Linked DNA regions of Homo sapiens. The protein of the gene in region 2 purifies or fractionates together with the protein of the main gene of each other region. This does not show direct contact. Each region holds a gene or a part of one and is shown on either strand. Other genes may lie near its edges.

Evidence for each region. Proteins that work in one complex are often made in the same cells at the same time.
Region 1: the proteins of PARP10 (region 2) and RNF114 purify together in Homo sapiens (affinity purification with mass spectrometry; 2 studies listed by BioGRID and IntAct, with this or other methods). This does not show direct contact.

The regions. Positions count from the first base shown.
Region 1 is NC_000020.11:49,946,363-49,953,397, forward strand, and holds part of RNF114 (E3 ubiquitin-protein ligase RNF114), read left to right. Parts: intron 1-2,885; coding exon 2,886-2,993; intron 2,994-5,713; coding exon 5,714-5,779; 3' UTR 5,780-7,035. UniProt on the Homo sapiens protein: E3 ubiquitin-protein ligase that promotes the ubiquitination of various substrates. In turn, participates in the regulation of many biological processes including cell cycle, apoptosis, osteoclastogenesis as well as innate or adaptive immunity.
Region 2 is NC_000008.11:143,976,645-143,983,482, forward strand, and holds the end of PARP10 (protein mono-ADP-ribosyltransferase PARP10), read right to left. Parts: coding exon 6,523-6,838; intron 6,422-6,522; coding exon 6,288-6,421; intron 1,438-6,287; coding exon 1,263-1,437; intron 1,187-1,262; coding exon 840-1,186; 3' UTR 514-839; downstream 1-513. UniProt on the Homo sapiens protein: ADP-ribosyltransferase that mediates mono-ADP-ribosylation of glutamate and aspartate residues on target proteins. In contrast to PARP1 and PARP2, it is not able to mediate poly-ADP-ribosylation.

The DNA.
Region 1 (7,035 bases), on a different chromosome or scaffold from region 2:
AGATTGTTAACATTTTACCATATTTGCTTAACCATGCTCTATAGTACACATTTTTTGCTGACCACTTGGGAATAAGCTACAGATACCATGACCATTTTTGCACCCTGAATACTTCGCACCCTGATACAGGAGTGTGTATGTCTTAAGAACAAGAATGTTTTCTTGGAAAATTATATTTTTGTGTGTATAATTAATCATATTCAAGAAATTTAACATTGATTCAATCTAATGTCTAATGTGAAATTCATGTTTTAATTTTAACAATTGTAATGTCTTTCATAGCAATTTCCCCCTCCCCCCAAGGCAGAGGCAGGGATGGTACACGAGTTCTCTGTCCTCTGGGTGCTACATTAAGTCATGTGATGTCTGTTGTTGGTAACATTAACTTGGTTCCCTTGGTGTCCACCAAATTTCTCCATGAAGCTGCCATTTTATTTTTGGAAGTAGCTTCTTCATAGTTGTGGGGAAAGAGGATTTAGGTGAAATTATTAGGAAAAGGCTTATCAATCCTTGGACATTTTACTCAGATATTACCTACTGGCATGTGTAGTCTCCTTTAAAAAAAAAAAAATGTAGGCTGGGCACGGTGGCTCACACCTGTAATCCCAGCACTTTGGGAGGCCAAGGCGGGTGGATCAGTTGAGGTCAGGAGTTCAAGATCAGCCTGGCTAACATGGTGAAACCCCATCTCTACTAAAAATACAAAAATTAGCCAGGCATGGTGGCGGGCGCCTTTAATCCCAGCTACTTGGGAGGCTGAGGCATGAGAATTGCTTGAACCTGGGAGGCAGAAGTTGCAGTGAACTGAGATCCTGCCACTGCACTCTAGTCTGGGCAGCAGAACAAAACTGCCCCCCCCCCCCCCCCCCCCCCCAAAAAAGTATTTGTTCCATCTTAGCAATGTGTTACCTTTCTCTCTCAATGTGATTGACAGACCAGGTCTTTTTTTATAGTTAGGTGTATACTTCCTCTATAGTTTTAATTTTTCCATTTATCTCATACTGCTTCTCTTGAACTACATACTCTGTTGTATGGGCAGCCTTCAGCTCCATTGCTGTAAACAGTGGTGCAGAAATTTTAGAATTTTAATGAGCTTTTGTGAGAGTACTAGGGCAGCTATCAATGCTCATCTTAAGATGGAACTGGCCATTTTGAGAAACATATCTTTGCCTGTATCTATGTATGTTTATAAGCTAAAGTCTTAGATACAGATTGACTTGGTTAAATGTTACTTGCACTCATAATTTTGTTGGATACTGTTATTGCTGAACTTTTCTGGTATGGCAGCCTAATTTTCTGTCTTTTTCCCCTCCTTTGGCTTCTGAAATCCCTCTGATTATGTTGTCTATGTTGAGGCCTTCTCTTCAGCCTTTGGCCCTCTGTTCTGTCTTCCTCTCCCTCTGCAAGTTTTTTTTTTTTTTTTTTTTTTTTTTTTTTTTTTTTTTTTGAGGCGGAGTTTCGCTCTGTCGCCCAGGCTGGAGTGCAGTGGCGCGATCTCGACTCACTGCAAGCTCCGCCTCCCGGGTTCACGCCATTCTCCTGCCTCAGCCTCCCGTGTAGCTGGGACTACAGGTGCGCGCCACCATGCCCGGCTAATTTTTGTATTTATGGTAGAGACGGGGTTTCACCGTGTTAGCCAGGATGGTCTCGATCTCCTGACCTCGTGATCCGCCCGTCTCGGCCTCCCAAAGTGCTGGGATTACAGGCGTGAGCCACCGCGCCCGGCCCTCTGCAAGTTCTTAACTCTGCGTTTCTCCCTTCCCTTTAGAAGCCATCTCCTTTTCAGTCTCTAGTCCCACCCTATGTTCTAGCTCCCCAGCTACAGCTGCCTGCCCACCTTTTCCACTCAGTCTTCTACCATTCCAGATTTCTCTCTTGTCAATCCCCTTTATCACTGTATCTTCCTTGCTGTGGGGTAGGGTTCCACCTTTAAGTGGGGGCACTTAGGTCTTCTCTCTCCCTGGCATGAGTTTTCTGCACTCACTGGTCTGGTTGTTTACATGTGTTGACAGTAACTGCCGCCTTCTGGCCTTTTCTCCGTGCTGCTGCCTCTCTTCTGGAGCACAATTTTTTTTTTTTTTTTTTTAAGACAGAGTCTCACTCTGTCACCCAGGCTGGAGGCTGGAGTGCAGTGGCACAATCTTGGCTCACTGCAACCTCCACTTCCAGGGTTCAAGCGATTCTCATGCCTCAGCCTCTCAGGTAGCTGGGACTACAGGCGTGTGCCACCATGCAAGGCTAATTTTTGTATTTTTAGTAGAGAAGATGTTTCACTATGTTGGCCAGGCTGGTCTCAAACTCCTGACCTCAGGTGATCTACCGCTTTGGCCTCCCAAAGTGCTGGGATTACAAGTGTGAGCCACTGTGCCCGGCCTGGAGCACTCTTTCATGTCCTCTTTGCCTTTCCAAATACTTCCCAATCTTCAAAAACCAAATCAACCTTTTGTGTGAGGGCTTTTCAGCCTGATCCCCCTCTTCTGAGCATTTCCTTTGTTAAGATGCATGTAAGGCTGTGTTTTACTTCCCTGGGACATTGCTCATCGGCTTATTTTCTTAGTTTTCCTCATGCTTTTGGATTGTCTTGTGTGCTGGATTGGAAGGCCAGTCTAGGCCCCCCACCAGGCTGACTCACTTCTCTGCTTACAGTAGGGAATGAGAAAGGGTGGTATCATGATTTGAACTTTACCCAGTCCCACGTGTCATTTGACTTGAGCTGGAAATTTGCAGTGTTTTTTTGGGCTGCTGATGTGCACAGGAAGGAGTTACTGGCCCTGGACAGTATGTCAGGAAAGCTGTCCTGGAAGAAAGGAGGCCAGACACAGGCCACAGAGGGCTGGTGCAAGCTTGGAAATTGGGTGCCTAAGACCTTGCTTTTGTGTTGAAAGGTTTGTCCGATATGTGCCTCGATGCCCTGGGGAGACCCCAACTACCGCAGCGCCAACTTCAGAGAGCACATCCAGCGCCGGCACCGGTTTTCTTATGACACTTTTGTGGTAAGTCTGGAGCCTGGGCTCTGATCCCTCCCCTGGGGGAGTGGCACGGCTACTTCACTCTTCTCAAAAGGGGAAATGGGGATCCCCAGTGTTGAACTTTGTCGCTGTTGTGATGGGCTTCCAGTCTGTATACTGGATACAGTGATAAAGGGGATTGACAAGAGAGAAAAGAAGACTGAGTGGAAGAGGCGGGCAGGCAGCTGTAGCTGGGGAGCTAGATGGGCTTCCAGTCTGTATACTGTAGCTACTATACAGTTTCTATTCATGGGCCAGGCAGGTGGCCAGAGTGACATTTATTTACTTACATGAGATGGAGTCTTGCTCTGTCGCCCAGGCTGGAATGCAGTGGCGTGATCTCAGCTCACTGCAGCCTCCACCTCCCGGGTTCAAGTGATTCTCCTGCCTCAGCCTCCTGAGTAGCTGGGACTACAGGCGCATGCCACCATGCCCCATTACTTTTTGTACTTTCAGTAGAGACAGGCTTTCACTATGTTGGCCAGGCTGGTCTCGAACTCCTGACCTCGTGATCTGCCCACCTTGGCCTCCCAAAGTGTTGGGATTACAGGCGTGAGCCACCACGCCCGGCCCAGAGTGACATTTAAGAAGATGATCTGGGCTGGGCGCAGTGGCTCACACCTGTAATCCCAGCACTTTGGGAGGCCGAGGTGGGCGGATCCTGAGGTCGGGGGTTCGAGACCAGCCTAGCCAACATAGTGAAATCCCGTCTTTACTAAAAATACAAAAAAATTAGCCAGGTGTGGTGGTGGGCACCTGTAATCCTAGCTACTTGGGAGGCTGAGGCAGGAGAATCGCTTGAACCTGGGAGGCAAGGTTGCAGTGAGCCAATATCGTGCCACTGCACTCCAGCCTGGGCAACAGAGCAAGACTGTCTCAAAACAAACAAGAAGATGATCTGGTCAGTCTTTGAGACAGAGACAGTGATACTTGCTCTTTCCATCTCCTAGCCCTGCCACCAAATTTTTGTCTACTTTTCTTGTGGTTTATATAATTTCTGCCTGTTATAGAACTTGGTTTGGGGACAGGTGCGGTGCAGTGGTTCATACCTACAATCCTAGCATTTTTGGGAGGCTGAGGCAGGTGGATCGCTTGAGCTCAGGAGTTCGAGACCAGCCTGGGCAACATGGGAAAACCTTGTCTCTGCAAAAAATACAAAAAGTAACCAGGTGTGGTGGCTCCTACCTGTAGTCCTAGCTACTTTGAGGGAGCTGGGACAGGAGGATCTCTTGAGCCCAAGAGACGGAGGTTGCAGCAAGCTGAGATCATGCCACTGCACTCCAGCCTGGGCAACAGAATGAGACCCTGTCTCAAAAAAAAAAAAAAAAAACAAAACACACACACACAACAACAATTTGGACTTGGGAGGCTCAATCTCGCATGTCCATGGGGACCATAATTGAAATGATCCTCCTGAGGATTTCCAAGCCAGGTGGTGCCTGACTCGTTATGCTGCCATCACCTTGTTTTCCTATGGAAATGCAGGCGCAGCATTGCCTAGCTTCTCCACCCCCCATGCCCAAGCAGGACAGGAAAATTTCACAGGAGGTTTCACAGGTTTTAATTATCTTCAAAAATACTTCAGGTCAAATAGCATATATCCACTAGCCAAATACGGCTGTCAGGTTTATATTCTTTCCCTAGAGCTGGATGGTTTCAAAGGGGCACACTGTTGTCTTGCCATTATAGTAGTAGGTAACTTTGGCCAACTATATCAAGTAAACCTCTTACTTACATATATAGATGTCAAGTTAGGATTTTAGAGTGGTATTCGGTCTTGATGGCTGAATTTCAGTATCTAAGAAAGAAAGCTCTCTGCTAAATTGTCATAAAGAATATTTTTTCTCAGTCTGACAGTGTCTGAAACTCAGACTTCAGAATAACTGCCCTTTTTGTTAATGTGACACAGATGAATTACATTCATCTGTGTCACATTAACAAAAATGACTCATTAAAAATGAGTCCTAAAAATGACTCATTAAAGAGGGCTAGTTGCGCTATAGTTTCTGCTGTATTGTATGGCTCTAAAAATCTGATTCTGTACTGTGCACTGATTCCACCTCTCAGAAACAACTCTTCAGCTCAGTGCATCTGCGTGCTCTGTTCCGACAGACTTACAAATGTTCTGAGCACTTGGTCTGTGCCAGCCTCCATTCGTGTGCTGTCTGGGTTTCTCAATCTCCATTTAAGGGAGGCATCCTTAACTTCATTTAAGAATCAGGCAGCAGACTGGGTGCAGTGGCTCATGCCTGTAATCTCAGCACTTTGGGAGGCCAAGGCGGGTGGATCACGAGGTCAAGAGATTGAGACCATCCTGGCCAACATGGTGAAACCCTGTCTCTACTAAAAACATAAAAATTAGCTGGGCATGGTGGCGCACGCCTGTTAGTCCCAGCTACTCGGGAGGCTGAGGCAGGAGAATCACTTGAACCTGGGAGGCAGAGGTTGCAGTGAGCCAAGACTGTGCCACTGCACTCCAGCCTGGCAACAGAGCGAGACTCCATCAAATAAAAAAAAAGAGAAGGCAGCAGAGACAGATTAATTTTCCCAAAGTTACATACCTAGCATCACAAACAGTTGCACTGGGGATCCGGTCCCTGGCAACCTGCTCCGGATCCAGTTGCTAGGCTGTCCTGCTTCTACTGAAAGCCAGTCTTTGCATCTAGAAACAGTTGCTGAGGCTGCATGTCTCTTTTTGCCCTTAGGATTATGATGTTGATGAAGAGGACATGATGAATCAGGTGTTGCAGCGCTCCATCATCGACCAGTGAGCAGAGTCCGTGCTTGCTATCTGTCTCATGTTACAGAGCTTCCATTACATATTAAACGTGAAATCTATGACTCCTGTACCTTACCTGTTCAACAGACCTGAAAATGAGCCATGGCATTGGGACAGGGTCACTTCTGACAGGGGAAGTGGGTCCCCAGGTCAGCCCTTCTCTTCCCTTTGGGCTCTTGCCAAAGCTGTCTTCCCCTACTGTTAACCTTGTTTGTCACACGGTCGAGTTCGTATTGGTTCTCGGCTACTTCCTGGAGCTTCTGCCGCCTCCTGTGGAAGATAATCTAGCTTCTCCACCTCTTGTTTCACACTCATTCCTCCCATCCAGTGTTTGTCTCTCGGGTCCTTCAAGCCAGCCAGGACCTTTTCTGGGTCATGAATAGCACAATGAAGCAAGTGTCTCCTTTCCTTGTCCCCAAGGTGTGCAGACTTTGGCAGCCGTGCACCTGACCAGAGCTGAAGCTCCCGCTGGGCTGTGGGGTTGCCAGAAGCTGGGGTTGCCATCCCGGGGTACATGTCACCAGTCCTCTTGGGGTTTTGTACCATCTGATGCTGGAAGTTTTGATTAGTGATATTTTCTACTACTACATATTTAGAGTTCACTGGTTCAGTCTTAAATGCCTGCATGGTGCCTTTTTAGGATAAGGTATAACCATACATTTTTGGTGGAAGTGTTTCTGGGTTAGGGAAGTTAAAGTCTGTTTATCCGTAAGTGGGGAGGAGGGTCAGCTAAGAGAAGTGGGAGGGCCAGAGCTTTTTGGTTCTGATTTACAAATTAATGAAGTAGTTTCAAACAACGCGGTCATGTTTACCTCTCCATTTGGGAGCCTGCCTACATTCTTGTTCTAGAAGCACAAAAAATCCTCAGATGAATTAGAAGAAAGAGGTTTGGGGACTCAGCGGATACTAGTTCTTTTACCTTCTGCTTGGTAACTTAGATTAAACTGAGCATTGTTTTTCTGTCACAAATGTTTTCCTTATGACACTGGTTTCGACATGTAAAATGTGTTTGAAAACCTGCTTTGTAGATGCAGAGAGAAGCTATAGGAAACCCAGTACCACCCCTGGTCTGTTCTGACGAGACATCGTTCATAAGGCACAGCACATCGCAAGATGAACAGTTGTTAATAAAAGCTGTTGCTGGAAACTTGCTTTAGGAACAGCTCAAGAACCTTGGAGTTCATATTTCACAAATATTAATAAATATAAGTCCAAGAGCTGTCAGCCTAATCTGTAGGAGCAGAACCT
Region 2 (6,838 bases):
CCACCCCGCAGCGCCCGCACGCGGCGCGCCTCTCCATCCTGGCCGCGGTCATACATGCCTGGTGGCTCCGCTCACTTCAGCTCTGCCGCCGCAGCCAGACTGCTCGGGCCGGGAGAGCGGCGGAGGCGGCGCAGGCGGGGCGAGCCCCGAGCCCCGCCCCGGCCCCCACCCAGAGCTGCGCCGCGCGGGCCCGGCCGAGAGCGAGCGAACGCTGCCAGCGAGATCGGGCGCCCGTGTCTGCGCGGGGCCGCCGAGATCTCGGGAGCGGCGGGGCTGGGGCCCGGGCGGGCGATTCGGCCAGGGCAGCGGCGCACACCTGAGCCCCCGGCGCACGGGGCGGGCCGGTAGTCAAGGAGACGCTGTCTGCGCCGGCGTGCGCGACACGGGAACGTCGTGCGCTCGCCCCGGTGAGCTCCGGGCCCCGCCCCGCACCCCGACGCCTCCTCGGAAGCAGCAGATCCCGCCCCTGGGCCGCGGAGATCCCCACTCCCCAAACAGAGGTCGCAGTCAGAGTTCCCGGGTCCCTTCCGCCTGGGTTCACGTTCACGTTTATTCAAACAACAGAGCCGACTCGGGCGAGGTCTGGGAGCGGCGGGCGGGCGGTGTCGCCTCCTGGGCTCTGCTGACCCCTGGTGGTGGGGTCGGCCCAGGCTGGGACCTAGCCCGGCCCCCCTCGGCCGCTGCTGACCGCCATCCCCCACACCGCCTTCTGGAGCCCGCAGAGGGAGGCAGGGGCGTCCCCGGGGACAGCTCAGGCGGCCACAGTTGGGGGCGGGGAGCATCAGCCTGTGCGGAGCTGGGAGCCTGGGAAGCAGGAGGCCAGAGGGTGGCCCCTTCGGTTAAGTGTCTGGGGAGCGGCCCGGGAGCCCAGAGGGGTCGTCGGGGGAAGCGCGGGGCACGTGCTCGCAGGTGATGAGGTGGGTGGGCAGCGCCTGGGTGTCGTGGAAGATGACGAAGATGCTGGGCTGGCAGATGCAGTCCACGGCGCTGTCGTAGCGCAGGAGCACGTGGCCAGGACCCCGCAGAGGGGGCGCCCGCAGACCGCGGCGGCCCTGCCCGTAGTCGCCAGTCAGCACCCGTGCCACGAACACCGCCTTATGGCCATCGGCGTTGGGGGGCGAGTAGCGGTCCTGCACCGACAGGGAGGCGCGCCTGGCGAAATACACGCCCTTCCCGTAGACCGTGGCTGCAGGGCGAGACGGGGCAAGGTCAGGGTGGTCGGGGTGCGCAGAGCCCCCGCCCCTGCCCGGCTCAGGCCTCACCGTTGCGGCCGCAGAAGCTGCGGTTGAAGCCGTGGGCGCAGATGTCAGGCACTGCCGGTGCCGTCGTGCCGTGGTACAGCACCTGCTCCACCGGGCGCCGCTCGCATCGCTGCAGCAGGCGCTCCCGGTACAGCTCATACTGCTGCTGCAGCAGCGGGTGCGACACGCGCTCCACCTGCGGGGAAGGCCCGGGCCAGGATTAAACACCCTCCCTACGCCCTGGGGCCGACGCAGGGCAGAGCTGAGCCTGGCAACCAGGAGCCCTCTGTTGGAGGAGTCCAGGGTTTGAGGGAGCCCTTGCAGCCCCCATCATGCTCTGTCCAGCAGCAGACAGTAACACCTCCGTGAAGCAAGTGACTTCAGAGGGCCGCTGGGGAGGCCTGACCCCTCCCCCTCCCGTGGAGGTCTGCGGGCGGGCAAACCCCACCCACTCAAGCGAGGCCTCTGCAGAGAAAAGCTGAGCCAGGGCCCTATGCTGCCTACAGGACTTGACTCCAACACGAGGAGATGCCACAGACCTCTCAGTGCTGAAAGACCCAGGTGGGAGAGAAGGCCTCAGGTGACCAACCTGACAGCCCTGGGAAACACTTTTAAAGAAATTTTAAATAGTTTCTTCAGAGAGTTGCAAAAGAACACCATGTCTATTAAACAAAACTAGCTGCTATGAAAAGGAACTAGTCTGAAAACCAGAGTGCTCCTGCATTCAGAAAGGGACGCTGAGCTAAATCTAGAGGGGGTGAGCCAAATGAGGAAGTGGTTCAAACTGAAGACCCAGCTAGCGTTCTAGATGGAGTTCAGGAACTGATGCAGAGTGAGAAGCTAACGGAAGAGAAAGGAACTCCGAGGGAGCAGGTGAGGGGGCCTGAGGTCTGAGCCGGCATAGCAGGAGCTCCACCGGCCGGAGCTCCAGCACACACAGGGAAGACGCTTCCCTGAGCTGAAGGAACATCTTCAGATACACAAGATCCGTGAAATGCCAAGAAGGACAATGAGGAAAGACAACGCCCCTGGCACCCACGTGCCAGGAAACCTCAACCTTCAGAGTGAAAGAAAACCCTGCAAGTTTTTTTTTTTTTTTTTCTTTGAGAGGGAGTCTGGCTGTGTCGCCCAGGCTGGAGTGCAGTGGCACGATCTCGGCTCACTGCAAGCTCCGCCTCCCGGGTTCACGCCATTCTCCTGCCTCAGCCTCCCGAATAGCTGGGACTACAGGCACCTGCCACCGCGCCCGGCTATCTTTTTTGTATTTTTAGTAGAGAAGGGGTTTCACTGTGTTAGCCAGGATGGTCTCGATCTCCTGACCTCGTGATCCGCCCGCCTCAGCCTCCCAAAGTGCTGGGATTACAGGCGTGAGCCACCGCAGCTGGCCAACCCTGCAAGTTTACACACACACACAACAAGGTCAATATGCAAACCGGAAGAAGTCTCACCTTCTCACATTGGGTCTCTCATTACCGACACCAGATGCTAAGAAACCATGGGGGGATATTTTTTAACTTTCCAAGAAAAATATTCTTTTAAGAATGAAGAAAAACAGCAATGTCTTCAAATATCTGAGGAAAAACATATTTTGAACCTGAACACTATATCCAGCCAAACTAGTAATGAAGAATGAGGACAAATAAGGGCATATTAGGACACACGAGAACATGGAAGTTCATACCAACATCAAATTACAGTTGCAAAATACCTCTAATTGTAAAGGGCAATATAAATTTAAAAGTCGGCCGGGTGCAGTGGCTCACGCCTGTAATCCTGGCACTTTGGGAGGCCAAGGTGGGTGGATCACTTGAGGTCAGGAGTTCGAGACCAGCCTGACCAACATGGCAAAACCCCGTCTCGCTGGGCATGGTGGCTCACGCCTGTAATCCCAGCACTTTGGGAGGCCGAGGTGGGCGGATCACGAGGTCGGGAGATCGAGACCATGGTGAAACCCCGTCTCTATTAAAAATACAAAATTTAGCCGGGCGCGGTGGCGGGCGCCTGTAGTCACAGCTACTCAGGAGGCTGAGGCAGGAGAATGGCGTGAACGCAGGAGGCGGAGCTTGCAGTGAGCCGACATCGTGCCACTGCACTCCAGCCTGAGTGACAGAGCGAGACTCCGTCTCAAAAAAAAAAAAAAAAAAAACCCGTCTCAGCCGGGCGCGGTGGCTCACGCCTGTAATCCCAGCACTTTGGGAGGCCGAGGTGGGCAGATCATGAGGTCAGGAGATTGAGACCATCCTGGCTAACATGGTGAAACCCCGTCTCTAATAAAAATACAAAAATAAGCTGGGCGTGGTGGCAGGCGCCTGTAGTCCCAGCTACTCAGGAGGCTGAGGCAGGAGAATGGCGTGAACCCGGGAGGCAGAGCTTGCAGTGAGCTGAGATTGCACCACTGCACTCCAGCCTGGGCTACTGAGTGAGATTCCGTCTCAAAAAAAAAAAAAAAAAAAAAAAAAAAAAAAACCATCTCTACTAAAAATACAAAAAGTAGCTGGGTGTGGTGGTGTGTGCCTGTAATCCCAGCTACTTGGGAGGCTGAGGCAGAATCACTTGAACCCAAGAGGTGGAGGTTGCAGTGAGCCGAGATCATGCCACTGCACTCTAGCCTGGGCAACAGAGAGAGACACTGTCTCAAAAAAATTATATATATAAATGTATATATTAATATATAAATGTATATGTTTAAACATATATGTTCACATATACGTAAATTTAAAAGTCAAATATGTTTAGCACCCACTCAAGGAGATACTCCCACTAAACAAAAGAGTCTGTGCCAAAAGGTGACAAGCGGGGTACTGAGTAACCCGGTGGTCAAGAATGGCCTGGAAAAAATGAAGAAAGTCAAAAAAAGAAAAGCCATTAGCCTTGAATCCTAGAACATCTTTTTTACAGAACAGAATTTTAATAACTAGGATTTCACTTCTCTTTCTATGGCTCAGTGGTAAATGTTTTTTCATTATTATAGTATGTCTACCAACCTATGGCCCACGCATGGAGGCTTTGTGATAGTTACAGAAACCTTTACGACATAATAAAAATAATGTAACTGACCAAATTGAGATGGAAGATGAGGGAGGAGGCAAAAGAGAGAGAAGCGAGGCCCATTCTCCTCATCTTCCATGCGGGAAGGCAAGAAACAATCTCTAAAGCTGTCAAGTGAAAAAAAAAAATTCAAGCATACCATTTAAAGTCATCAAGGTGCTCACTAAATTCAAGCATACCATTTAAAGTCATCAAGGTGCTCACCGGAAGAACCAAGTACGTATAATTAACAAAACCACCAGGATATGAGGTCAGTGCGTCTGGGTGGTGGTGATCCTGGTGGCGGTGAGCGGTGACGGTGTGTTGGTGAAGCTGACGGTGACAGTGGTGATGCTAATGGTGGTGATGATGGTGGCCACGGTGGTGGTGGTAGTGGTGGTGGTGATGGTGGTGACGACAGTGAGTGGTGAAGGTGATGGTGATGATGGTGGTGACGACAGTGAGTGGTGAAGGTGATGGTGATGATGGTGGTGACGACAGTGAGTGGTGAAGGTGGTGGTGATGATGGTGGTGACGACAGTGAGTGGTGAAGGTGGTGGTGATGATGGTGGTGACGACAGTGAGTGGTGAAGGTGGTGGTGATGGTGGTGACGACAGTGAGTGGTGAAGGTGATGGTGATGATGGTGGTGACGACAGTGAGTGGTGAAGGTGGTGGTGATGATGGTGGTGACGACAGTGAGTGGTGAAGGTGATGGTGATGATGGTGGTGACGACAGTGAGTGGTGAAGGTGGTGGTGATGATGGTGGTGACGACAGTGAGTGGTGAAGGTGGTGGTGATGATGGTGGTGACGACAGTGAGTGGTGAAGGTGATGGTGATGATGGTGGTGACGACAGTGAGTGGTGAAGGTGGTGGTGATGATGGTGGTGACGACAGTGAGTGGTGAAGGTGGTGGTGATGATGGTGGTGACGACAGTGAGTGGTGAAGGTGGTGGTGATGATGGTGGTGACGACAGTGAGTGGTGAAGGTGGTGGTGATGATGGTGATGGTGATGGTGGTGGTGATGACAGTGAGTGGTGAGGGTCATGGTGATGGTGTGATGGTGGTGGTGATGGTGATGGGGTGATGGTGATGATGGTGGTGATGATGGTGGTGAGGGTCATGGTGATGGTGTGATGGTGGTGATGATGGTGGTGAGGTCTGGGGACAGCCAGAGGTTCTTTTTGCATTTCTGACCAGCTCCTGGTGGAGGGTGATGCTGCTGGCCCCACGCACAACTTTGGGCATCAAGAGTTGAGAGTGCCCCGTGCAAGGCCGGGCGCGGTGGCTCACGCCTGTAATCCCAGCACTTTGGGAGGCCGAGGCGGGCGGATCACGAGGTCAGTAGATCGAGACCATCCTGGCTAACATGGTGAAACCCCGTCTCCACTAAAAATATTTTTTAAAAAATTAGCCGGGCGTGGTGGCAGGCGCCTGTAGTCCCAGCTACTTGGGAGGCTGAGGCAGGAGAATGGCGTGAACCCGGGAGGCGGAGCTTGCCGTGAGCCGAGATCGTGCCACTGCACTCCAGCCCAGGAGACACAGCGAGATGCCGTCTCAAAAAAGAGAGTGCCCCGCGCAGTGTCATCAGCACAGTGACCGCAGCGAGCCCGGGCCTTTCTGTGGAGGCAGAAGAGCGCCCAGAACAGCACAAGGGACGCATCTGTGGAGCGAGTAATCCTCAAAATGACCACAAGATGGCATCACCGCCCCATGCTCCAAATAAGGAAACTGAGGCCTGGAGCTGGTCCCATAGTCCCTGCTGACCCAGCCACGAGTGGCAGAGTGGGGACCCTCACTCAGGCCTATCAGATCCCAAGGCCCCCACTCTGTTCCCTCCTGTTTCCCTACCCACTTTGGGAACGCCCTCTGGGCAGAGAACAGGGCTGGGAGCCTGTCAGCTCCTGGTCAGCTGACCTTGATGTAGGCGAGAGGGACAGGCCACAGACTTGGCAAGGCGCTAATGGTGCAAGAGCCCAGGACGCCATGAGGCCAGAGAGACAGGGCATGGACTCACACGAACGACGCGGATGCTGCTGCGGGCAGCGTCCAGGGTGTCGTAGAAGGCCCGCACCACCTCCTGGAACTCCCCGGTGTTCTCTGCCAGACGCTCCAGGTTGTTCCAGGGCCCCTTCAGCGTCTGCCCCGCCACTGATGCATGGGGAAAAGCGGGGGGTCAGAGCCATGCCTGGGGCACTAGCCCCTGCTAACCAGCCCACCCCACCGTCCCTCAGTCCAGGAGGTAGACTCACAGGTAGGGCCTGAAGCTGCCAAGGGAAAGGCCAAACTCTGATCCCAGGGGCCAGCCAGAAGTGCCACCAAGTGGCGGGCAGCACGGGCAGGGTGGGCCCCGAAGCCACGGAGGATGGTGCAGTCACCACGCAGGGCAACACTCACACCATGGCACCGCTCCAGGCGAGCACGCAGCTCTGCAGGCAGTGTGCGGCGCCAGGGCCCCACCGTCTCCTCCTGGACGTGGACCTCCAAGGCAGCCCTGAGCGCCCGGTCCAGCTCCTCCACATCCTGCTCAAAGGCCGAGTGCACCACCAGCTGGGCCTTGCCATCAGT